Linked DNA regions of Homo sapiens. The protein of the gene in region 3 interacts with the protein of the main gene of each other region in a biochemical or structural test. Each region holds a gene or a part of one and is shown on either strand. Other genes may lie near its edges. The genes, in order: DGKZ, FRMPD4, GIPC3, MAP2K2, DGKK, SLCO1C1 and RASSF6.

Region 1 (3,500 bases), on a different chromosome or scaffold from region 3:
CAGCGGGACCGTGTTCAGACTCGGGGACCCAAACCCAGCAGTGCAGGGCCTGGCCCTGGGGGCGGGGGCACCACTCACTGCCTGCTTGCACCACGAGCAGCTGATGGCCACAATCTCCTTGCTGTGGAAGGTGAACTTCTGCTGGAATCCCTGAGGGTAGACAGGATGGATGGGAACCAGGGCAGGCGTGGAGCAGCAGACCCAGCCCCTCTCCTGGTGCCAGCCTCTCTCCACCCAGAGACAGGGCCTCGCTATGTTGCCCAGGCTGGTCTCAAACTCCTGGGCTTAAGCAATCTGCCTCAGCCCCCCCAAGTAACTGGGAACAACAGGCATGTGCCACCATGCCCAGCTTTGAACACATTTTTTGTTTTTGTTTGGAGATGGAGTCTCGCTCTTGTTGCCCAGGCTGGAGTGCAGTGGCGTGATCTTGGCTCACTGCAACCTCCACCTTCCAGGTTCAAGCGATTCTCTTGTCTCAGCCTCCTGAGTGGCCGGGATTACAGGCGCCCACCACTACGCCCAGCTAATTTTTTGTATTTTCAGTAGAGACAGGGTTTCACCATGTTAGCCAGGCTGGTCTCGAATTCCTGACCTCAGGTGATCCACCCACCTCAGCCTCCCAAAGTGCTGGGATTACAGGCGTGAGCCACCACACCCAGTCTGAACACATTTTTTAAAATAAAAAAAAATATGTATAAGATAAGCCTGAAGAGCAGGGTGGCTTAGCCCGGGCCCCCTGACTCCCTGAAGTTACCTGCACGGCACCACATGCATACCCGTTCTGCCACACTGCAGGCTAACTCCTGCCTCACTCGGATTTTCCCTCCTTCCTACCCCCGAGGCCTGACCAGACCCCCATGTGCTGTTAAAGAAATTTACTGCCGCTTCCGAGTACCTATCACATTCATTCCCTGTTCATCACACAGGCTGTTATGAAAGGCCTGCAGTGGGCCAGGCGCTGAGAATCAGTGAAGCAAGCCTCTCCATCTTTGAGAGCCTGCACTTACTGAGGGAGGCGGGCAAGAAGCAAACAAGAAAGTGAACCAAACAACTGTGGACTGGGTTAGGCGGTCGCCTGGAAAGCCTGGCTTCAAGCCACACTGTCCTCAGGAGGGTGGGAAACCGCTGCCCAGCTTGGCGCTCGGCACACAAGTATCCATGGAGTCACCGAATGAGTAAGTCTATACGATTCTCCAAAGGGCCACTTGCAGCTTCAAAGCAGGCCAGGTGTGCCACATGGGAAGAAAACTTTCCTCCCTGCTCTCCTACTAAGCCCAGAGACCAAGAGCAGGCCAGGGTGCTTGAGAACTGAAGGCACTGCAGCCAGGCTGAGGGTCAGCCCCGGACTCTGCACACCAGGGTGTGGTCAGTGATCGGCAGGCCACACCGGCCACATGGCCTGGGCTCAGGACCGCAGGTGCAGGTGGCGATGTCCTCGGGCAGGGCCTCTCACCTTCCCACAGTGCCGACACTTGCCGTCCTGGCGTCGTCTGTGTACCCAGTGGTGCCGTACAAAGGTTGGCTGGGGGAGAAGGGGAAAAATTTCACTGGGTGAGGGGTGGGCAGGGGCACAGTCCTGAGGACTGCCCACACGGCTCAACACACGGGGCTGCAGGAAGCGCTCTGCAGTCCTGCGCATGAGTGGAGGAGGGGCTAAAGACTCTCTTCATGGCCTGGGGGAGGCTCAGACTCAGAGGGACAGAGAAGGCTGGGAAGCACCAGGAGGCACAAGCTGTCCCACCCACTCCGCAGGCAGCGCTAGTTAGGCCTCCGCATGGCAGACCTCAGACAGACCTCAGTGAGCAGCAGCCTAGAGGGAGCCGAGCCCCCTGGTGGCACTCCAGAGGCACTGCGCAGAGGCCCATGCAGGAATCTTAGGGTGGCCCCATCCCTGACCACCCTGGGCACTTACCTCGCGGACATTCCTGGAGCCTGATTCACGGAAGGACGGCTTACAGCGGAAATTTATCTGTGAAACATGGCAGTGACCACCAAAATGTCAGAACCTCCCTTCGGGGTCAGGTATGTGGTCACTCCCTCCAGGACAACCCAGAGTCATCCTCACAAGGTGGGGATACCCCCAAATCGTCACGAGAGTCCTTGAAACACGAGACACCTCCTGTGAGAAGCCCTCCTGCCTCTCTGCCTCCTCCTCACTAGCCAGAGGGATCTTTCCTTCTTCCACCCAGGACCCAGGATGAGGGGGAGGTTGGGAGCTTTGGGTCCGTCTCCCCCACTAACATGGGACCATGGTTTGCTCGTTGTTTTTTTTTTGTTTTTGTTTTTTGAGACAGAGTCTCGCTCTGTTGCCCAGGCTGGAGTGCAGTGGTGCGATCTCGGCTCACTGCAACCTCCACCTCCCGAGTAGCTGGGATTACAGGTGTGCATCACCACGCCTGGCTAATTTTTGTGATTTTTAGTAGAGATGGGGTTTCACCATGTTGGCCAGGCTGGTCTCAAACTCCTGACCTCAGGGTGATCCACCTACCTCGGCCTCCCAAAGTGCTGGGATTACAGGCATGAGCCACCGCACTCGGCCGCATCCTTTCTTCCTCGCCCTCTGGCACTCCCGACCCGGGCACACGCAGCCAGCCTGGTCCTCACACGCAGACTTGCACTGCCTGGCCCCTGGAGACCTTTAGCTAATTTGTGGAACCCTAGGTCGATTTCCACCTTAAATGATGAGTGTACAGTGCTTGGGGCTGCATTTCTATTTCCCTTCTCATAACTGTCCCTACTTCAGCCTTATTAGAGGTATAAGGAAGCCTCACTTTACAATTCAGAGGCTGGGGAAAGCAGCCTGTGTGAGCCTGCCTGAACCACTCCTAGTCTTACAGTCTCTCCCGTATGATGGCCTGGGTTTCTGCAGGCTGGGAAGCGCTGCCCCTCCATGCGAACCCTTCTGCCCCTGGCCTTGACCCGTCTGCCCAGTGCTGCCTCCACCTCTAGAAGCACAGTGCCCAGACATGCCCCCAGCTGCAAATGCACAGTGGACAATGGCCCTTGGGGAAAGGTCTCCACAGAGGCAGGGTGTAGCCACAGCTGAGTTATGAAGCTTCAGCAAATCAATGGCCTCTTCTAAGCACTAGTTTGGACATGGTGAAATGGTACAAGGGCCACCATTCGTCAATTCATTCCATTGAGTGATATTCAACGAACCCACTAGGCGCCAGGTTTGTTCCAGGCAGTGGGGATACAGCAGCTAATCAGTGAGGAGCCAGGATTCGAACGCAGGCATTTGGCTCCAGGGTCCTTGACTCTTCACCCCCGAGTGCTGGGTCACTCCTGGCAGGCCGTTTGTATAACATGTGGGTGTGAGTGCGCGCTGAAAGGGCCTCAGCACCCAAAGGGCAGGGGCGGGCAAAGCTGAGCTACCCACCCACCTTCTCCAGCTGCTCGATGCAGGGCGTGTGCACCACAATCTTGCAGGCTGCGCACTTTCTTCGAGACACTGACTTCTGCTGCAGGACAGGAAGAGAGGGCCCCTGAGGCACCAGGTA
Region 2 (3,500 bases), on a different chromosome or scaffold from region 3:
GCTTCAAACGTTTTATCTGCAGCTTCCTCACTTTTCTCAGCCTTCGCAGAATTTAAGAGAGTTAAGAGTCTTGCTCTGGATTAGGCTTTGGCTTAACGGAATGTTGTGGCTGGTTTGATCTTCTATCCAGACCACTCAAACTTTCTCCATATCAGTAATAAGGCTGTTTCACTTTCTTATCGTTTGTGTGTTTCCTGGAGTAGCACTTTTAATTTCCTTCAAGAGCTTTTCCTTTGTAGTCACAGTTTGGCGAACTGTTTGGCACAAGAGGTCTAGTTTTTGGCCTATCTCAGCTTTCAACATGCCTTCCGTACCAAACTTAATTATTTCTGGCTTTCAATTTAAAGTGAGAGATGTACAACTCTTCCTTTAACTTGAACACTTGCAGGCTACTGTAGGGTTATTAATTGGCCTGATTTCAATATTGTTATGTCTCAAGGAACAGGGGAGCCTGAGGAAAGGGAGAGACATGAGGGAATGGCTAGTTGGTACAGCAGTCAGAACACACACAACATTTATCAATTAAGTTTGCCATCTTATATGTGTGGTTCATGACAGCCCAAAACAATTGCAATAGTAACATCAAACAATTCCAATAGTAACATCAAAGATTACTGATCACACATCACCATAACAGATATAATAATAATAATGAAAAATATGACACAGAAACACGAAATGAGCACATGCTGTTGAAAAAATGGTGCTGACAGATTGCTTGATGTGGAGTTGGCACAAACCTTCAATTTGTAGAAAGTGCAGTATCTATAAAGCACCAATAAACCAGAGTGCAATGAAACAAGGTATCCTTAAATCTACTATAAACCAAGGAGGTTTAATACCAGGGGATTTGCCCTTGAAGAGTTCATAAATGAGACACAGATCAAAACTGGACTCAATTATAATACCATCTATACCAGTCAGCCATTGCCACAACAATGCTGCATAACACAGTGTCATACAAGAATAAGCATCTGTTTTCATGCTCACAGGTTTGCCTGATGGTGCTGGTCCATGTGAATCTAGCTTCTAGGACCAACAGGTTAAACTAGGCAGTTCTTCATATAGCAATGTTAAGAGCTTTTTGCTTTTTTACATTCTTTTTTAGAAACGTACAATACCTTAAAGGCATTCTCCTACCAAAAACTTGTACCAAAACAGATACCCTGTGACTTCTGTCCATATTCCACTGGCCAAAGCAAGTTACTTGGCCAAGCCCAACAGCAATGGGGCAAAGAGGTACCCTCTACCTCTAGGAAGTAGAACTATAATGTCACATGGAAAAGGCTTGGATTCAGGGAAGATTTAAGAATTGGGAACAAAATTACAATCTACCACACAATGAAGAAATGTTGTGAAAAGAGCAGGGCATGACATGTCCAGCACAGATAGGGTACACAGTGGCACTAAACTTCCCAGCTTGCCTCACAGTTACATAGGGTCAGAGTTCTGCCTAATGGAATGAGGGTAGAATGGTATACTTTGATTCTGGGCATAGCCCTTAAAAACCTGTCACCCAATCTTCTACCATTCTCTCCCCTCATCTGTCAGCTGAACACTGATGTGCAGGAAACCTTCGATAGCATACTGAAGATGAGATAGTCCTATCTTACAGGTTCTCAGAATGGCTGAGCATATCAGAGCTCCCCCACACCATCAGGAATGCCTGTTTTGTGTATCAAGCAAACAAGAGATGGGCCACAAAAATTGAGGGATTGATCTGTTAAAGCAGTGAAATTATCTTCGCTAATAAAAGATGTCAGTCGAGCTATTTAACCCAGGATTGGGAGGTTGGAGAAGGTGACATGGAACAACCTTAGATTAAAAGCTGAAATATAAAAGACAGATAGGAATTTTTCAGGTGTAAAGGAGGCAAGATAAAGATTGTTCCAGACAAAATGAAGAGTTTATGCAAAGGCTCAGGGTGTGGCACTTTTTAGGACTTCTAAAAAATTCAACATGGTTAGGGGTAGATGTGTGTGTGTGTGTGTCTCTGTATGTGTGTGTATACACGTGTGTGTTTGGTGTTGAGTAGGAAGTTAAGGCTGGAAAGGAGGAATAACAAGTTCAGAGAAATATGGTTCTCTTTTTCTTTTCTTTTTTTTTTTGAGACAGAGTCTCGTTCTGTTGCCCAGGTTGGAAGCACAGTGGCGCAATCTCAGCTCACTGCAAGCTTCGCCTCCCAGATTCAAGCTATTCTCCTGCCTCAGCCTCCCGAGTAGCTGAGACTACAAGCGCCCGCCACCACGCCCGGCTAATTTTTTTGTATTTTTAGTAGAGACGGGGTTTGACCGTGTTAGCCAGGATGGTCTCGATCTCCTGACCTTGTGATCCGCCCACCTCGGCCTCCCAAAGTGTTGGGATTACAGGCGTGAGCCACCGCGCCCAGCCCGAGAAATACAGTTCTCAAAGGAACCAAGTGAATCAGGCCAAACCCAAAAGGGTAAGGATAAAGAATATGGATTTTCCCCTCAAAAGTATGTAGACGGAGGGGACAGGGAGGATCCAATTTGCACTTTACAAAGCTTCTAAGTTAACCTACAAGTGGTATTGTAAGTGCTGACAGTTTAAGTCCCCCAGAGCGGGGCTGGCAAGGGTGACTGTGTTCAGGGTGAATCTCCAACCATATCCATCCTTCCCCCTGCTAGTAAAGAAGGCTGACACCCAGACTGCCCCAAAGGGAAATTTGAGTACTGGGCAGAGAGATCAAAGAAGAACAGTAAAATACCCATGTAAAGGGCAGAGAGTAAATATTTTAGGCTTTGCAAGCCATGTGGTTTCTGTCACAGCTATCCAACTCTCCCAAGAGCAGCCACAGTATACAAACAAAAGGGCATGGCTGTGTTTAAATAAAACTTTATTTATAAAAATGGTCATAAAGCTTTCTAAAATAAGTAAACACATCAGATGGGTTAAGTTTGCCAGCCCTGGCCCTAGGCCATGAAGCAGGACATCGCCCTGAGCCACAATTCAGTTGGGCATGTTTGGGATTTACACCAAAACTAATTCCAGACTCCACCACTGTATAGCTGAGACTGCTAACTGCTCCTGTACTAGGGTAAAGACCGGTGACTTGGATCGTGAACTTCAAAAGAGACAAATATCCAGGACTCCAGTTACAGGAACCATTGTAAAATCACCATGGTCAGTATGTTATCCAATGTTGAATCAATACAACAGCCTTGAATCAGCCAGATGGCCGCGTGTTCTCCCCCACACCAGTCTCTGACCAGATAAATAACTGTGCCAGTTCAATAGAAAAATACACTCATTCCTACATTCATTAGGAAAATTTTACCATTAATTTTATGAACTTTTGCCTACTGCTTTCTTTGAACCTCATCTTTGTCAGGTAATCATGTTCTTATTTTCAATTAAGCAAATCTCATAAAACTTGTGAAGCCTATAAAAAATAACCAAAATAAAAATTAAAACCCTATAGTAAATTGTAATTGCAGGGAAATTACTTTTCATTTTCAAACTTTGGAAACATTTCTTTC
Region 3 (2,782 bases):
CATGGTGGCGGGCGCCTGTAATGCCAGCTACTCAGAAGGCTGAGGCAGGAGAATTGGTTGAACCCAGGAGGCAGAGGTTGCAGTGAGCCGAGATCATGCCACTGCACTCCAGCCTGGGCGACAGAGTAAGACTCCATCTGTAAATAAGTAAATAAATAAAACAGAGAAAGAGAGAGAGAGATGCAAAAGCGTGGAGTGATGCCCGTTTCCTCCACTGTTCACTTGTTCACCCAGCAACCTTTCAAACACCACAGTGTTCTGTACAGCACCTTGCACATAGTACGTGCTCAATAAATATTGGTAGAAAGGACCAGTGGCTGGGTCTTCGTGGAGCACCTGTCGCCTGCAGGCACGTAAGCTCATGCCTGTGCGGTGCTTAATGAAGTGCCTGGTACACAGTAGGTGCTCAAGAGGTATTCAGTGTTGCCACAGTTTCAGCCAGCCCCCCAGCCCCACATCTCTGCATTCCCCCAAACTTCCCCCAAAATGACACACCAGGCTGCAGAGATGGAAGGTGCCTTTATTCACCATGAGCCCTCAGGGTACATGCGGTGCAACCCGTCTCCTGCCCTCCTTTTCCCTCCAAGGACCTGGATCTGAGCCAGGACCGGTGAAGCCCCTGTTTTCACCACCGCACACTCCCTACCACCGCCTGCTGGAGAAATAAGGTCACTTGCTGCTTCTGGGGGCCCCAGGCTGGAAGGGACAGGAGAGGACGAGAACCACATGAACCAGGGCTAAGTCACAGCCAAGCTACGGCCCCCCGCGGTAAGGGCGGGCTCCTGGCTCCCCCAGAGTGGGGCAAAGGGCTGGCGCCAAAGCTGGGGACTCAGACAGCTGGGAACTCAGGAGGGCTGCCCTAGGGGCAGGACTAGGAGTGACAGATATGGTGGGTGGGGTGGACTTCTGGGGTCCCACCCGGGGCTTGGGAGAGACGGCTGGCTTCTGGGGGGTTGAGGAGACCTGTGACTGTGGGGCCAGGTAGGAGGCTTGGGGTAAGCCTGGGATGGGGCCAAGGCTGGCCTGGATGCCACATACCTGATCATGGGGCTGAGGCAGAGGCTGGGGGTCTTTGCTAGGGGCTGGGGTGGGGTCTCTGGGGGATGGGCCTGGGGGCTGAGGTTGGGCTGGGGCAGGGGCCTCAAGCTGGATTCTAGGGTCAAGGCCAGGGGTCTGTGGGCAGATTCCATTTCCAGGGCTCAGCCAGATTCTTGAACTGGTGTGAGTTCTGGAACTGGATTGGGTTCCAGAAACAGGCTGGGTTCCAGAACTAAGGTGGGCTCCAGGGCTGGGCTGAATTCTTGAGCCGGTCTGGGTTTCAGAGCTGAGCCCGGTCTCAGAGCTGGACTGGGTTCTGGAACTAAGTTGGGCTCCAGAGTCGGGCTGAATTCTTGAGCCGGTCTGGGTTTCAGAGCCAAACTGAATCCCAGAACTGAACTGGGTTCCAGAGCTGGACTGAGCCTCAGAGCTGAGCCTGGTCTCAGGACTGGACTGGGTTCTGGAGCTAAGATGAGCTCCAGGGCTGAGCTGAATTCTTGCAGTGGTCTGGGTCCCGGAGCTGAGCTGGTTTCCAGAACTAGTCTGAGTTCTGGAGCTGGGTTGGGCTCCGGAAATCAGCTGGGTTCCCGAACTAAGCTGACTTCCAGAGCTGGCTTGAATTCTTGAGCTTATCTGGGTCCCAGAGCTGGGCTGAGTTCCAAAGCTAAGCTGACTTTCAGAACTGCTCTGCTTCCCAAAGTCCAGTTGAATACCAGAGCTGTCTGGGGCTGTGGTCTGGAGCTGGTATCTAGAACCTGGCAGGGTTTTAGAGGCGAATTGAGTCCCAGAGGCTGGTCGAGCTCCTGGGCAGCGCTGGGTCCTGGAGCTGGACCTGCTGTCGGAACTAGACAGGGCTGTGGAGCTTAATTCTATTGCTGCGATGGCCTGGGTCCCAGGACTAGATTGGACTCCAGAGCTTAGCTGGATTCTGGAACTTGGCTGGGTCTCAGCTGCTGTCTGTGTTTTGGAGCTGGCTGGGATTTCAGAACCAGCCTGTGCTCCAGAACTGAGCTGAGTTCCAGAGCTGGGTGCGGTGCTTGGGCTGGATTGAGCTCTGGAGCTTGGCCAGGCCTTGAAATTGGTCTGGGTCCTGGAAGTAAACTGCATTCTAGAGCTGAGCTGCATTGTGCAAGGAGAGTGGGGCTTGGCACCAAGCTGTGTGCTGGAGCTGGGTCTTGCTTCCAAGATGGATGGGGTTCCAGAGCTGGTCTGAATCCTGGAGTTGGGCCTGGTTGTAGCACTAGGCGAGGTTCTAGAGCTGGGCTCAGTCTCAGAGCTGGAATCATCACTGGAGCTGGACTGGGCTGCAGGATGGGGATGGGCACTTGGATGCAACTGGGGTTGGGATCTGGACTGGGCAGCCGTGTGGACCTGGGTTTCTGAGCTGGTCTGAGTTCTTGAATAGGATTTGATTTGGGAGCTGTCTCTGAATCCTGAGCTGACTGGGGTTCCAGAGCTGGGCTGCTTCATGAATCTCACATGGGTTCCAAAATTAACTGGGGTTCCGGAGCTAGACCGAGTGTCCAGGTGTGGCTGCATCGTGGAGCTGTCCAGAGTTCCAGAGTCAGCTTGAGTTTTCCAGCAGGGCTTGGTCTCCGAGCTAGCCTGGATTCTGGAACTGGGATTGGTCTCCAAGCTGGTCTGGGTCTTAAAATGTGTCTGGGTTCCAGAGTTTGGCTTGTTGTCAGGGCTCAGCTGGATTCTAGAGATGTGCTTCGTCTCAGAGCTGGCCTGGGCTTCAGAG
Region 4 (3,500 bases), 500 kb from region 3:
CAGGAGAATTCCCTGAACCTGGGAGGCGGAGGTTGCAGTGAGCCGAGATCGTACCACTGCACTCCAACCTGGGTGACAAGAGTGAGACTTCATCTTTGCGGGGAAAAACAAAACCCACACACAAAAACTAGCTGGGCTTGGTGGCACACATCGGTAGCCCCAGCTGCTCAGGAGGCTGAGTGGGAGGATCACTTGAGCACGGGAGTTGGGGCTACAGTGAGCTACAATCGCACCACTGCATTCCAGCCTGGGGGACAGAGCAAGGCTGTATCTCAAAAATTTTTTTGACCAGGTGCGGTGGCTCACATCTGTAATCTCTGCACTTTGGGAGGCTGAGGCAGGTGGATCACCTGAGGTCAGGAGTTTGAGGCCAGCCTGGACAACATGGTGAAAGCCTGTTTCTACTAAAAATACAAAAATTAGCCGGGTGTGGTGGCGGGTGCCTGTAATCGTAGCTACCTGGGAGGCTGACTGGAGAATTGTGTGAGCCTGGGAGGCTGAGACTGCAGTGAGCTGAGATTGCTTCACTGCACTCCAGTCTGGGCGACAGAGTGAGACTCTGTCCGACTCTCAAGAAAAAAACAAAACTGAAAGCCACATTCCAGTATTAGAAGGCACCCGGTTGGGTGTCTGTAGCTGGCATCTCTTCTTTTCTTACAGGCACAGAAAGTAACGGGCTGTCTAGGGGGGTGGCATCTCCAATCCGCCAATCAGCTGTCGAGGGGTTTGAAGGTCGCTGACGGTGGCTGTGGTATGGGAAAGCACTCGGGATGCAGGCTGGGCTGAGGGCAGGAGGATGATGCCCGGGGCCCTCCTCTGAGGGTGTAGTCCCCGCTGGGGAGGCGAGTTTTGGTGAACAGCTGGGCTTCCGAGGATATCAGAGGATGGGGGTTTAAGGGGACACCGAAGTACGCACGGCCTCGGGGGACCTGCTTGCCAGTGTGCAGAACAGGGATGGTCACCCTCTAGTTTGCAGGGAAAGGAGCCTGGGGGGCTGAGAGCTGCCTCCAGCCTCTCATGAGGGCAAAGAAGCCCGGGGTCTCATCCTGTGGGTGCGGGACCAGCACCAGGCAGGAGCGGCGGAGCTCAGAGCCCAGAGCTGTTCCCACGCACACACCCTCTGCTCCCCGCAGCCAGCCCAGGATGGCTTCTCTCATGGATGAGAGAGACCCACAGAGGGTCCTCGGCGTGGCCTGGCACACCCGGCCTGCCCACATCCTGGTCGCAGGTGCTGGCTCCCCGGGCAGGGCCAGGCCCAGCAGCCTTATTTCCTGGGGCCTGGGTGGCAGCCTGCACCCTCCCGGTCCCAGAACCCGCTGGCATCACTCACTGTGAGCATCTTCAGGTCCGCCCGCTCCGCTGGGTTCTTGATGAGGCTGGGGGTTCCAAGAGGCAGGACCGGGAGGCGGTGGAGGAGACAAGACAGGGCAGTCAGCTGGTGGCCCCGGGGCACCCGCGTGTGGGCCGTGGTCGGAGGGGGCCTGGATCTCTCCGACCAGAGAGAGTGGCACAGAGTGGCTGCTCTGTTCTGCCTCCTGGCAGAGGACGAGGGATCCACCTCTGCACTTTGGTGCCAGGGGCAGGACACCCCCCAGCGGGAGGGTGAGAGGGAAAGAGGGTGGGAAACCCCGCCTGGTGGGTCAGAAGCCTGGACGCAACCCCAGCTAACTGTCTAATAAAACCCCAGGCCCGGGGCAACATCGCCGGAGCGCACGCCAAGGGCCCGGGGCAACTCCGGCACCAGGAGTGCGGTGCCGTTCCACGGCGTCCCGAGCTCACACACATGGACCGGCCCTGTGGGCAGCGGGGTGTCCGCAGCTCCTTCCCCGTGGTCTGCGGCACATGCCTGTGAAGCCCACGCCACAGGTGCTGCTGGGTGCTTGGGGGCAGGAGAATGGAGTGGGGCTGGCGACCCTCCCAGAACCTGCGGGCGGATCCCGGGGAGCCCACAGTCAGCACACCAGGGGTCCGGGGACCAGACAGAGGCTTCTCCTGCTGCAGACAGTGAGCTGGGGACACCGTCATGTGCACAGGGCCTGCAATCCTGCTTCACCCCTGGGCTCACGGACAGGATGGCATGGCAGCCGGGAGCTGCAGCCCCACAGCTCTGGGAAAAGGAATCTGGCTTCCCGTTGGGCTGAGTCCTGCCTAACGCTGCACTGGGATTCTGGATGGGCAGGCTGGGCCACGGGCCCCACCCAGGACCCGGAAGGAGTGGCACATCTGGGTCCCGGCCAGGGGTGTGGGCAGCCCGGCTCCACCTACCATTTATTGACAAACTCCTGGAAGTCGGGGGTGAACACACCGTTGGGCAGCTTAGGAGGTGGCTGTGGAGGAGAACAGAGGGTGGGGTCAGCCCTGGGCATCGTCAGGGACCCTCGGCTGCAGCCCTCTCTACCCCTCACTGTCCTGTCCGGTCACCCACCCTGCAGGCCTGGCCGACACCACATGCCAACTGGGCTGCACCCTGTCAGAGGTGGCCTTCTCCCGAAAGCTCTCGTTTGAGAGTCACGGCTGCTTAGAGGGAAAGAGTGGGGTGCGTCCCCCTTTTATCAACAGGACAACCTCTCGAGTGTCGTCACTTGCTTCCTTCCCCAGTGTCACTGGCTGAAGGATGAGCTTTGGGACTGGGCCCCACAGAGGGACATCTGGATCCAAAGTTATTTTGTTTTGAGACAGTCTCGCTCTGTTGCCCAGGCTGGAGTGCAATGGCGTGATCTTGGCTCACTGCAGCCTCCACCTCCGGGGTTCAAGGGATTCTCCAGCCTCAGCCTCCTGAGTAGCTGGGATGACAGGTGCCCACCACTGCGCCTGGCTAATTTTTATATTTTTAGTAGAGACGGTATTTCACCAGGTTGGCCAGGCTGGTCTCGAACTCCTGACCTCAGGTGATCCACCCACTGTGGCCTCCCAAAGTGCTGGAATTACACACCTGAGCCACCGTGCCCGGCCAAACTGGGTCCACAGTTTTAAGCCCAAGCACTGGGGAGCCTGGCCTGACACACGTCCCCGGAGCGGGAGTGGCCGTGTAAGCGGTGCCAGCAGGGCAGGGGCAGGCCTTTCCCGCGCAGGGGCAGGGGCGGGAAGAGGCGGGGGAGAGGTCGGGGGATGTGCTCACTGGGCATGGGTGTGGCTGCTAGGTGCAGGGAGAGCTGGGTCACCAGGGCCACCCCACCTGGCTCCGTCATCATCTCGCCACCCAACCCCAGGCCTAGCCCAGTCTGCAGGCAGCTCAAATGCCCGTTTCTCTGCCCCAGCTCCAAAGGGCCACCAAAGACACAGAAACCCACAGAAGGCCCAGGGAGGTGGCCCGGCCTGGTCACGTGGCCAACAGGACCTTGGGGTGCAGTCCTGTGCCTCCCTGACAGCTGCAGGCCTGGAAGGAGGCCGCGTCCCTCCTTGTGCCTTGTTTTACTCATCTGGGCGGTGGAAACCCTCATACTGTGGCTCACTGGGTTGTTATGGGGACTGACGGAGCAGGAGCCACCCCGGGACCTACA
Region 5 (3,500 bases), on a different chromosome or scaffold from region 3:
ACCCTCAATGTTGCTATGCAATTGCTCTCTGGTGCAGCTGGGAACATCTGATCTTCAGTGATAGGATCATTCTCTCCTGCATCTTCCTCAGACAAATGGCACCTGCAACCAGCTGGCTTGTATCTTAACATTCAAGGCAAACAGGTTGTCATCTTAGCTGGGGTGATGTTGTTTTCAAACACTGCCTCCTCGAGGCAAGCTTGGGGGGAAAAAACTGTGCAACACGCACAGGCGTGCACACACCCCTAACACACACACATACTATACATATGTGCCCAAAATGTCAGGGAACAAAACAAAATACAGGTCTCATCATGCAATGAAATCCTCCATAGCAAGCATGAAACTATCCTGATAATTCAAAGGATGAAATGAGCAAAACCAAGTGTTTGAATATGACTGCAAGTTTCTCCCAGATAATTTTGTTGACTGGTATTGTAGCAAAAAACCAACATCTTTCAGCCTTGTAGTCTGCTCTTTTTTGGAATTTCAGGAAAGTTTCAGAACCTGCAATTGACTGAGAAAAGGGGGCTCATGTTTTCTTTTCAAATAGCTACCAGGATAACACAGTCAGTCTGTGAACCAAACATGTCTATTTCTTTCCTTTCTAAAATGTTTCAATTCCCAGGAAATGAGCCATGGTCTCCCACCTGGTGGCAGCAAGTGTAAGTAAGGATGTGTGAATTGGTTCTTTAGCAATGCTATAACTCTCTTGGGGGAGGGATGGGGCTTATATGAAGTAGACCATGTTTCTTTCTCTCTCATCAGCTGTGCTTGAAGAAAGACAAAATTTTGTTTATTCATTGGGTTTTGACCAGCTATGAAATGAAAATCACATCATACAAATGATTGATGAAAATCTGAGGGGAGATACACTTTCATGGCTTTTGGGGGAGATAAAAGGGGTCTGTGTATCCCTCCTGATGACTGCACAGTAATAACCATTATCCTCAAACCATATCAGGACAGCTTTTATGCACAAAACTGATATTTTTGTACATTTTCTTGCAAAATAGCAAGCATTTGTTTATATGATATCTGGTGATTCCTATCAATATTTTATTAGTGATTTCTGAGCTTCTCAAAAATAGGGGTGGCCTTTCTCAGTGCCTAGTTCAATGCAGCCCTCCTTGATTTTGCTTAATAAACACTTGCTGAAGCTTGAAAACTATCCATTTCCAGCAATGTAGAGGCTGCTGCTGTGAATGAATAAAAATTTGTTCTCATTGGTTTCAGAGTGAGAAGTAAATACTTATTTAAATGGCATGGAATATATAGCCCTTAAGGAAATACAGTCAATCTTTCCATTTTCAGAGTGGTTATTGGAACTATAATTAAGAAGCAAATTACTAACAATTTTTATTAATGGCTTGGAAAGTGTCCTTATCCCATGCAGTCCCAGCAGCAGCAGACTAATAATGATATTGTTAGCTTCAGGGGATAATAAATTTTTTTCCTAAGTGAACAGAGTATCTGCAGTGACTGTAAACAGATTTGGGATTATAGATTCAGATGTTTAACCTGTTGAAGGTCAGAATGAAATTACTTTCTTTTCTCTTCAGTTTTTCCCCCCTCCTTGCCAAGCTTTGATGATACCATCTGATTTATTTGGTGTATTCTAATAGTTCCTAAGCAGTCACTACAGGGTGTTCTAGAAAAGATAATGAAGTATTGGTCAGTGGTCTTTAGTTTCTCAGAGTACAATTCTTATGCACTTATTAAAATCTCCGACTAGGGCTTCTGCAGATCTGCAGCCCAAAGGGAAAGTGCCTCCAAGGAAAGGCAAAAAAAAAAAAAAAAAAAAAAAAGAAAAAAGAAAAAGAAAAAAATATCCATAGAAACCAGGAAACCATTCAGGGGTATTCTAATAAGGATTATATAGTTCCTTCTGCTCCTGTGGCACTTTACAGTTTACAGAGTGCTTGCCTCTGCATTATTAACCCTTTTATTTCCTTGAACAAGGCAGCAGGTGGGGGAGGGCAAAAATAAAACTTGACAGCTTATAGGATGTAATGATTGAATTTTCTATTGTAGATTTTTTTAAAAATCTGACATATGGCCTTTTGTGATACATAGGATCCTCATTTGTCTAAGAACAGTCTTTTAGCTGACATTTCATCAGCTCTGAATTTTTTTCCAAAGCGGTGGTTGCTGCTCCACTTCTGATGCTCCCAGAGGGGGCCAGCATAGAAGAGGAGCCAGAGAAGAAACGAGAAGAGGCAGAGACCCTGAACCGATTACTCACAAAGACCTTTTTTGTTGGTGCGTGTGTGTTTTGTAAAGGAAATAAATTGAAATCCTGCTAAGGATAGGGTGCCCGACCTTTCCAAAGCCCACCCACTGTAATTCTTTCAGTGGAAAAAAAATAATTTTAAAGGAAAAAAAAAAAAGCAAGCAAGCAGCCATTCTAAAGGGAGATGCCCCACCCTCACCAAAGCAAATAGAGCTCATTCTCAAAATAATAAAAACAAATTTATGAATTTTAAAAACGAAAAGAAAGGGACAGTGACCCCAGATAATGAAATTTATCTCTCCTCTGAAAATTATTTTAAGAAAAAAAAAGAAACAGCTTCTAAAAGGAAGTTATCCTCACCCTCATCAAAGCCCATGGAACTTATATCCCCCAAAGAAAAATTTTAAGATGAAAAAAGAGAAATCATCTTAAGTTAAACAGTATTTCTAACCTTAAAATATTCATGAAATTTGTAAACTTTATTTGACTTCATGGCTCATGCTTAATCTCTTGAGAAAATTAAGGGGGCAAAAATAAAGGGAAGGTCCCCCAACCTCATCAAAGCTTCCTGACATTATTTTCCCGATTACATAAAATGTGCAGAGGAGGCAAATCCTTAGAGATGGAAAGGAAATGAGGGAAGCAATATGGGAGGTGGAAAAGGGGATGATGGCTAAAGAGTACAGGGTTTCTTTTGAGGGTGATTAAAATGTTCTAAAATCAGAGAATGGTGATGGGTGCACAACACTGTGGATACAATAAAACCCACAAAATTGTGTATGTTAAGATGATGAATTTTATGGTATGTAAATTACATCTCAATTTTTAAAAATAGTTCAAAGAAAGATACCATCCCTCTAACCACAAGATAAGAGACCTATTATTCTCCCAAAAACAAAAAACAAACAAAATTGAAAAAAGGAACTAAAAGAAAGGGAGATCCTCTTAAAGGATCTTCAACCTCGCCAAGGATAATAACCTTTATTTGCCACCCCTTCAATTAAAAAAAAAGAAATTAAGGAAAACAAACAAAAAAAGGAAATCTTTTTAAGGGCAGATATTCTCAAAAATCATAAAAGTTAATGAAATTTACGAATCCTCCCCTCTAGATACACACATTTTAATTAAAAAAAGAAAGAAATATTAAAGGATAGGTCCCTGACTATACCAAATCTCCAGAATTTTTAATTCCAAGAAGCAGGGGCGCGGGGGGTGCGGGAGGGAGGGACAAAAGAAATACCACTCCTCCATGACTAAAGAGCATAAA
Region 6 (3,500 bases), on a different chromosome or scaffold from region 3:
GCCTAATAATAATTTTTTTGAAACCAGACCCTTGTCTCATCCTTTCCTTTAGTCAATTCCCACTCCCTAGAGGAATCCACTTAATTTTTAAATTGTTGAAGTCCTCTGATGTTTTAACTTCATATTATTAATACAAAGCAAATCGTTTATACTATTACTTGATTTTTCAGTTTGAGAAAGTATGAATTGAAATGGTGAGGGATGAGGTTTAGTGAACACAAAACAAGCATTGCATAAAGTCAAGGTGATATACTCAGTCAGAATAGATTTCTGCCACAATACATGAAATTTGACTCCTAACATTATTCCTTTAGGAATAACATTATTCCACTCCTATTATGTGGATATAGAAGTCCTCTATTAATGTACAATTGGGTCATCTGATAATATTAGGGAGATTGAGAAATACTTTGTTTGTTGAATTCCTTGATTTAGGTTAGATTATCAGGCAGGCACTGAGCCATGTGGAATCCTAAAGAAGTAGGGGCACAGGATATGTAAATATTGATGTGAACAGGGAGAAAATAGGTTCAGTGTGTGATCCTGTCCTGTGAGGGGCGGTGGGAAATTGAGCATGGGAAGCAAGGCTGTCTTTTTTACTTTAAGGCTGATCAAAGACTGTTCTTTCACCTGAATTAAATCTAAGGCACAAATCATGTTGCTCCCTTATTTATCAAACAAAAACAATACACAAATTGGACCTCTTCTTTTTTGTCATATTTTAAGGCTCACATTGGGTGCTACAGGAATCATAAGGTGGTACAGGGACCTATAATGAATGTAAAACTTCTATTTGTTTTGCTAAGAAGATAGATTTAAAGGCTTTAAAGACTTTATCCTAATGAATCAATATTCAAATAGTTGAATTCCTCTTCTTCCTTTCCTGCTTGCTCCTAGTTTAAACTGGCAAGACCACAAAGTTAGCAAAATTCTGCCTCATTATTTATTCCAAAGGCAACACTTAAATTTATTCTTTGCCATAATGAGGCTTAAACTGGGCAGATTGAGAAAGAATGCTGGCTACAGAGTTCCAATAGCAGGATTAGTTAATCAGATATCCTGGTTGATTTTAATTGAAAACATTTGCCAACTTACTGTGACAACAAAAGGTAGATTCACTTTAAATTGCGTCTATAGAATTGTGGTATACTGTTGAATAAAAAAATTTAATAAATTGCGTAGTATTTATTTATTTTTACTTTAAAAACTAACTTTGACAGATCAGAGTCAAGGAATGTGTTTATAATGGACACTTCATCCAAAGAAAATATCCAGTTGTTCTGCAAAACTTCAGTGCAACCTGTTGGAAGGCCTTCTTTTAAAACAGAATATCCCTCCTCAGAAGAAAAGCAACCATGCTGTGGTGAACTAAAGGTAGAGCAACCAAGAAGTAAATAGTGTTGATGCTCTTAGTTTTCTGTCCAGATATCATCTATATAATGAAGTTAGAATGAGAATTGTTTTCTCCTTTAAAAAAAAAAAAAGATCTTAGATGCAATTTACTAAAACCACACCTTGCCAGGCGGTGCAAGCAATCTCTACCTGACCATGTGGGTTAAATTACTTTCCTGGGCTCATTTAAATGCCCCCCCAAACAGAAAAGAGAGAAATAGTAGAAACTAGTATTTATTGAACTTCTGCCATGTGCCAGATATTAAGCCAAGCACAGATATAACATTTAATTTGTGAAACATCACATTACTCCCATTTTGCAAATAAAAATGGGAATAATGTTACAGAGTAGGGAGAAGAGTTGCTTTTTTTTTTTTTTAGGATTGTTGTATCAAACAATAGTTTTTAGTTTTTTGAGGAACCTCCATACTATTATATTTTCCAAAGAGACTACATCAACTTATGTAACCACTAACCATGTACAAAGATTCCCTTTTCTTTACATTCTAACCAGTTTTTATTTTTTGTTATAGCCAACAGATGTGAAGTGATATGTCATAAAGATTTTTATTTGCATCTCCATAATGACTAGTGATGTTGAGCACCTTTTTCATATACCTGTTGGCCATGCCTTCTTTTAAGTAATGTCTATTTAGATTATTTGCCCATTGTTAAAATCATGCTATTTTTCTTTGCTATTTAGTGATAGAAGTTTCTTTTTTTTAATTATTTTTTAATTATTATACTTTAAGTTCTAGGGTACATGTGCACACGTGCAGGTTTGTTACATACGTATACATGTGCCATGTTGGTGTGCTGCACCCGTTAACTCGTCATTTACATTAGGTATATCTCCTAATGCTGTCCCTCCCCGCTCCCCCAATCCCCCGAGAATAGTTGTTTCTTAAGGGATGCTTTGTGTGCTCCTATTCTTTCTTTATACAAATATTCACTCAACAAATCTCTGCTTTTTTCATATAAATGCTAACCTTCCCTATGAATGTTCTATCACAGACCCATGTCTATCAAAATATATAAGCTAGATATCAAAGACATGTTTTCCATTGAGAAAAATATTTGACTATGAATTTAATAAGTATAAACATAAACACAAGGAATAATAGTTGCACTTTTTCAGTCTGTACATTATGTTCCCGGCTGGTGCATGCACCACCCTGTGAAATACATAATCCCAAGTGCTGGACTTGTTATAGGATGTCAAGTGTTTGGCTTATGGTTTCATTTACTTTCTTACCAATGAATGTCTCACCATACACTGACTCTTCAATGTAAGACTCCTTTGAGTGCCCCTCTGGAGCAGAGTGGAAGAAGACAAAAGATAATTCAATACACATTTCGCATAAAAACCAAATATATATTTTAAATTCCAAGAGAATTTGAACTGTTGAAAACTTACAGTGCTTAAGGCTGATGGAAACCTCGAACAGTGTTTGAATTAAAGTTTCAGTGATAATAAAGTTGATATTATACATTGTTCTTTGTTGTTTGTTTTGTATTTGTTTGTCTATTTACTTAGTTTCCAATTGTGTGTCAAGCTGGAGTCAGACTAAGTGTGACCTGTCATATTTTCCAGGTGTTCTTGTGTGCCTTGTCTTTTGTTTACTTTGCCAAAGCATTGGCAGAAGGCTATCTGAAGAGCACCATCACTCAGATAGAGAGAAGGTTTGATATCCCTTCTTCACTGGTGGGAGTTATTGATGGTAGTTTTGAAATTGGTAGGTATTACAGATGCCTGACTTTAATTTTAAGCCCAAGATCTTCTAGGTGTGGCTAAAGAACACCTTCTGCATTCTATTGTCTGCTGGGATCAGACTCTATTCATAAAATCTTTTTTTTTTTTTTTGGACAGAATTTACCATGATCTTATTCTACAGGAGAGGCAATTTTCTCAGAGCAATCAACAGTAAATTTTTCTCCCCAGGTGTTTGGTATTGTATGGTTCACACAATTCAGAGTTCTACATCAGAGTAAGTGACTTTCTTGGAGGAAAGGGTGAGATGCTAATTGGTATTTTGAGTTATAAATATGTAGAAGTATCTTTACAGAAGAACAATACACCCTGGGAGCACTATGATTCAATTTTAGAG
Region 7 (3,500 bases), on a different chromosome or scaffold from region 3:
CTCGTCATTTAGCATTAGGTATATCTCCTAATGCTATCCCTCCCCCCTCCCCCCACCCCATTATATGTTGGCCCAAGTTCTTTGGAGCTTTTCCTAAAAAATAAACACTGGGCCTTAGTTTTCCTATAAAACTACAGAAAGCTCTTTGAGAAGCTATTTATATGGTATGTGGAGCATTGAAAGATTTTGTTCCCATCTTTTATAAAAGCAAAAGGAATAGTATGCTTTGGACTAGTCCTACTATTTGTAATATATCACATTATGTTCTTTTTAGAACATTCCAGATGTATGATATGAATGACTTTTTCACTTAGTTGTCCACTATCCTATTATTTCTTCTCATTGAGTCATGTATATTTAACAATGATTCATAATTGATTAGTCAAAATTTGGTTACTGAATTATTACAATTTCTATAGCAGATTTTAGAGTATAAAATTATAGTGTAGCGTTGAACAACTCTAGTATCTATTGAGTAGGCAGAAGGTGTTTAAATGGAATTGAATTGAGCTACAATGTGTTACTAGCCTAAGATGCAGAAGATTCAAACCTGCCTTCTGCCCCCCTTTCTGCTTGTATACAATTGATAGTACCTTTTTCAATTTCCTCTCCTATGCATATTCATATGTAAGAATAAGACCATGTGGTGGCATTTGTGTTTTATTTTACTTTAGGATTTTAAAAAATTTTCTACTGTAATTAGAACATTATCAAATAGGCATGAGATATTTCTTCCTTCTCTAGCACTGCTGTTTAAATACAAATATATTTTTATGATGTCTTTGATGCCAAGATACTGGGATTTCCTTGGGTTTCATATATATTTCTAAAAGATAATTGGAAGGGCCGATATTTAACAAGATGTAAAGATCCCATGGCATAAAGAGAAAAGGGAACCCTGGAAGGAACATCATGTTTGTCACAGGATCTGGGTTCCTGTGGAATAGCAGACGAGGCAGAATTGAGAATGATTTGAAAAAAAAAAAAAGAGAACAAACATTGCAAGTTGCTGGTAGGCTTATGAAGTTAATGCTAGTGGGATACCTTTGTTCACACTGAACTGACTTCGTAAATCACAGCCCCATTTCAGGCACATGAACCCTGTCCACCACCCCTCATTCTAGCTTCAGTCATCAGCATCCACTACTCTTTGAATCTTATGTGTTTATGAGAATTACATGAAAAAATTCATATAAAGTACAAAATATTATGCCTGATACTTACCAGAGTCTCATCAGATTACAGCTATCAATATCACTATTATTACTCTCACATCATCACCATTATGATTATAACTACTAATGTCACACATCCCTGGAGCTGGCATTTCCCATTGGTTTGCCAAGTTCAGTATGGATCCATTTGATCCTTAAGTATATTTCTCTTTTAAAAAGATCTCTGAAATAACTCTATCAAATATAAAATTGACTCCAGCATATCTGTGTCTTTCTGAGAAGTAATGTTATTGACATATCTATTAACTAACTAAAACGTTCAACTTCTAAAAAGATACAGAATTAGGTCTGATGGGCTTGGCCTAACATATAAAGCTATTGGGAATAATAAATGACTCTAATCTTTGGGGAAGATATTTAACAATTTTATGAATACAAACTTTATTAAAACTATTAGCTCTCCCTATTCTAATAAATCTAAGTGACATAATATAATTTTTTTAAGAATTATATTTTTATATACCAAAGTAAGGTTCTTAAACATCATACAAGCACTATAGTGACTTAAGTTACTATGCTCCTAAGATATTTAAAAATATATATACATATAAAACAAGAGTTTATTGTGTAGTAGTATGAAAAAGGTTAGATTTCAGAGAAACATATGGAGTCATACTTTACACTAATTAAAAATTAAGTCTCCCAATCAATAAGATTTTGATACTGACCTTCCTGGGAATTCCTTTTTTCAGACATAGGAATCTGGGTCCTGTCCAGCTCACTAATACGATAGAGATCGTCAAATTCCCCCCAGCGTGTCATTCTGAGAAGTAATAAATCTTGTAAGTACATCAGTTCCATTTATATTGAAGCCTATGATGGTTTCCAGATTTACAATATTAATATAGTAATACTGTGGGCCTCTGTAGGTGGATATATTGTCCAAAGTTATAACAATTTTATGATATTATTAAAATTATATTCATACCAAAGTGGTCAATATATGTTTTAAATGCTTCCTGTACTTTTATAGAGCATATCTTTTTGACGTAATAATTCAGTTACATACTGAAACACAAGTTATATAGATTCTGTAAAACATATGTCCAAATTGAATTAGTAGAAACCAAGATGATCAATTGTTATAAAGATATTTCACAATACTCTTAGGGGAGCTTGGGTATAAAAGTGTTCTTTATACATTCTGTCAATATGTATTGTACCTTTTGCATTCAAAACATTGTTAGGTAGAGTGGCTCTAAAATAATAAAATATAGTGCCTATCGTTTAAGGCCCTTGACTACCATGAAGAATGTAGTTTACGAAGGAGGAAAATGTATGAGAATTTTGCCAGAAAATTATGATTTCATAAAGAAACTAGCAATTTTAAGTGCATTCTAGTGCTCAGAATACATGAAACCTGACAAATGTTTATTTTTACGGCAGGTCAAAACTCAATTTTATTTTATTTATCTGGTCTTAAACAAGTTTCTTATCCCCTCTGTGCCTGTGTCCTCATCTGTAAAATAAAAATGATAATAGCATGAGGTAGGATAGGGTTGTTTTGAGGATTAAAAGAGTTAATTTGTATAAAATTCTTGAATCAGTGCCCTGAAAATAGTAAGCATTCAATATAGATTAACAATAATTATAATTATCCTCATCTCCATTGTCATCATCATCATCATCATCATCATCATCATCATCACCAGCATCTGTATCTATTTCATTCCTGATGGGCCAGGAACCATTAGGGACCCAAGGTGTTCCTGGATCTCTCTAGGCAAATGGTTGCTATTATCTAAGAATCTCTTCAGTAATGTCTGTTTTTCTTATGACTAAAATATATTCACTTATAGGGAATTTATGGCATTGACTCTGCCCGAATTTCATTGGTGGCAACAAAAAATATTTATTAATACTAATGGTAGTGAATATGAAGAAAGTCATCCCTTATCCTCTTTACTTTTGAATTCTTTTGAAGCGTGTTTTATGGCTACTATATCATTTGAGTCTCACAATAGCCTTATGATGTAGAGAAGGTAATCCTAATATATTTGTTAATTTTCCAGCAAGCTGTACTATTCAGAATACAGCCAATCAAAACAAATGTCATAAAGCCCAACTACAGGTAATAACTTTAACTCAAAGGAAAACTACCAGGTCCTGACTCAGAATCTAATTAGTCTTATGGCAGATAAAATTACCCATTTCCCCAAATCTATAGCAGCTTAATAATCAGAAAGTGGCAGACATAATTATCGTAGAAGGGGGGTTAGGAATGGAAAAGTCAATACCAATGAAAAACAGAAACTAAAAATGCAA

Evidence for each region.
Region 1: the proteins of GIPC3 (region 3) and DGKZ interact in a test that uses a peptide from one of them, tested with the Homo sapiens proteins (one large-scale study listed by IntAct).
Region 2: the proteins of GIPC3 (region 3) and FRMPD4 interact in a test that uses a peptide from one of them, tested with the Homo sapiens proteins (one large-scale study listed by IntAct).
Region 4: the proteins of GIPC3 (region 3) and MAP2K2 interact in a test that uses a peptide from one of them, tested with the Homo sapiens proteins (one large-scale study listed by IntAct).
Region 5: the proteins of GIPC3 (region 3) and DGKK interact in a test that uses a peptide from one of them, tested with the Homo sapiens proteins (one large-scale study listed by IntAct).
Region 6: the proteins of GIPC3 (region 3) and SLCO1C1 interact in a test that uses a peptide from one of them, tested with the Homo sapiens proteins (one large-scale study listed by IntAct).
Region 7: the proteins of GIPC3 (region 3) and RASSF6 interact in a test that uses a peptide from one of them, tested with the Homo sapiens proteins (one large-scale study listed by IntAct).

Annotation. Positions count from the first base shown.
Region 1 is NC_000011.10:46,367,963-46,371,462, reverse strand, and holds part of DGKZ (diacylglycerol kinase zeta), read right to left. Parts: intron 3,462-3,500; coding exon of another isoform or gene 3,459-3,461; coding exon 3,384-3,458; intron 1,970-3,383; coding exon 1,913-1,969; intron 1,523-1,912; coding exon 1,454-1,522; intron 151-1,453; coding exon 79-150; intron 1-78. UniProt on the Homo sapiens protein: Diacylglycerol kinase that converts diacylglycerol/DAG into phosphatidic acid/phosphatidate/PA and regulates the respective levels of these two bioactive lipids.
Region 2 is NC_000023.11:12,144,973-12,148,472, reverse strand, and holds part of FRMPD4 (FERM and PDZ domain-containing protein 4), read right to left. Parts: intron 1-3,500. UniProt on the Homo sapiens protein: Positive regulator of dendritic spine morphogenesis and density. Required for the maintenance of excitatory synaptic transmission. Binds phosphatidylinositol 4,5-bisphosphate.
Region 3 is NC_000019.10:3,591,260-3,594,041, reverse strand, and holds the end of GIPC3 (PDZ domain-containing protein GIPC3), read right to left. Parts: coding exon of another isoform or gene 754-2,782; 3' UTR 501-753; downstream 1-500.
Region 4 is NC_000019.10:4,093,123-4,096,622, forward strand, and holds part of MAP2K2 (dual specificity mitogen-activated protein kinase kinase 2), read right to left. Parts: intron 2,328-3,500; coding exon 2,266-2,327; intron 1,377-2,265; coding exon 1,331-1,376; intron 1-1,330. UniProt on the Homo sapiens protein: Catalyzes the concomitant phosphorylation of a threonine and a tyrosine residue in a Thr-Glu-Tyr sequence located in MAP kinases. Activates the ERK1 and ERK2 MAP kinases.
Region 5 is NC_000023.11:50,464,326-50,467,825, reverse strand, and holds part of DGKK (diacylglycerol kinase kappa), read left to right. Parts: intron 1-3,500. UniProt on the Homo sapiens protein: Diacylglycerol kinase that converts diacylglycerol/DAG into phosphatidic acid/phosphatidate/PA and regulates the respective levels of these two bioactive lipids.
Region 6 is NC_000012.12:20,698,332-20,701,831, forward strand, and holds part of SLCO1C1 (solute carrier organic anion transporter family member 1C1), read left to right. Parts: intron 1-1,220; 5' UTR 1,221-1,245; coding exon 1,246-1,374; intron 1,375-2,986; coding exon 2,987-3,128; intron 3,129-3,500. UniProt on the Homo sapiens protein: Mediates the Na(+)-independent high affinity transport of organic anions such as the thyroid hormones L-thyroxine (T4), L-thyroxine sulfate (T4S), and 3,3',5'-triiodo-L-thyronine (reverse T3, rT3) at the plasma membrane.
Region 7 is NC_000004.12:73,585,937-73,589,436, forward strand, and holds part of RASSF6 (ras association domain-containing protein 6), read right to left. Parts: intron 1,999-3,500; coding exon 1,904-1,998; intron 1-1,903.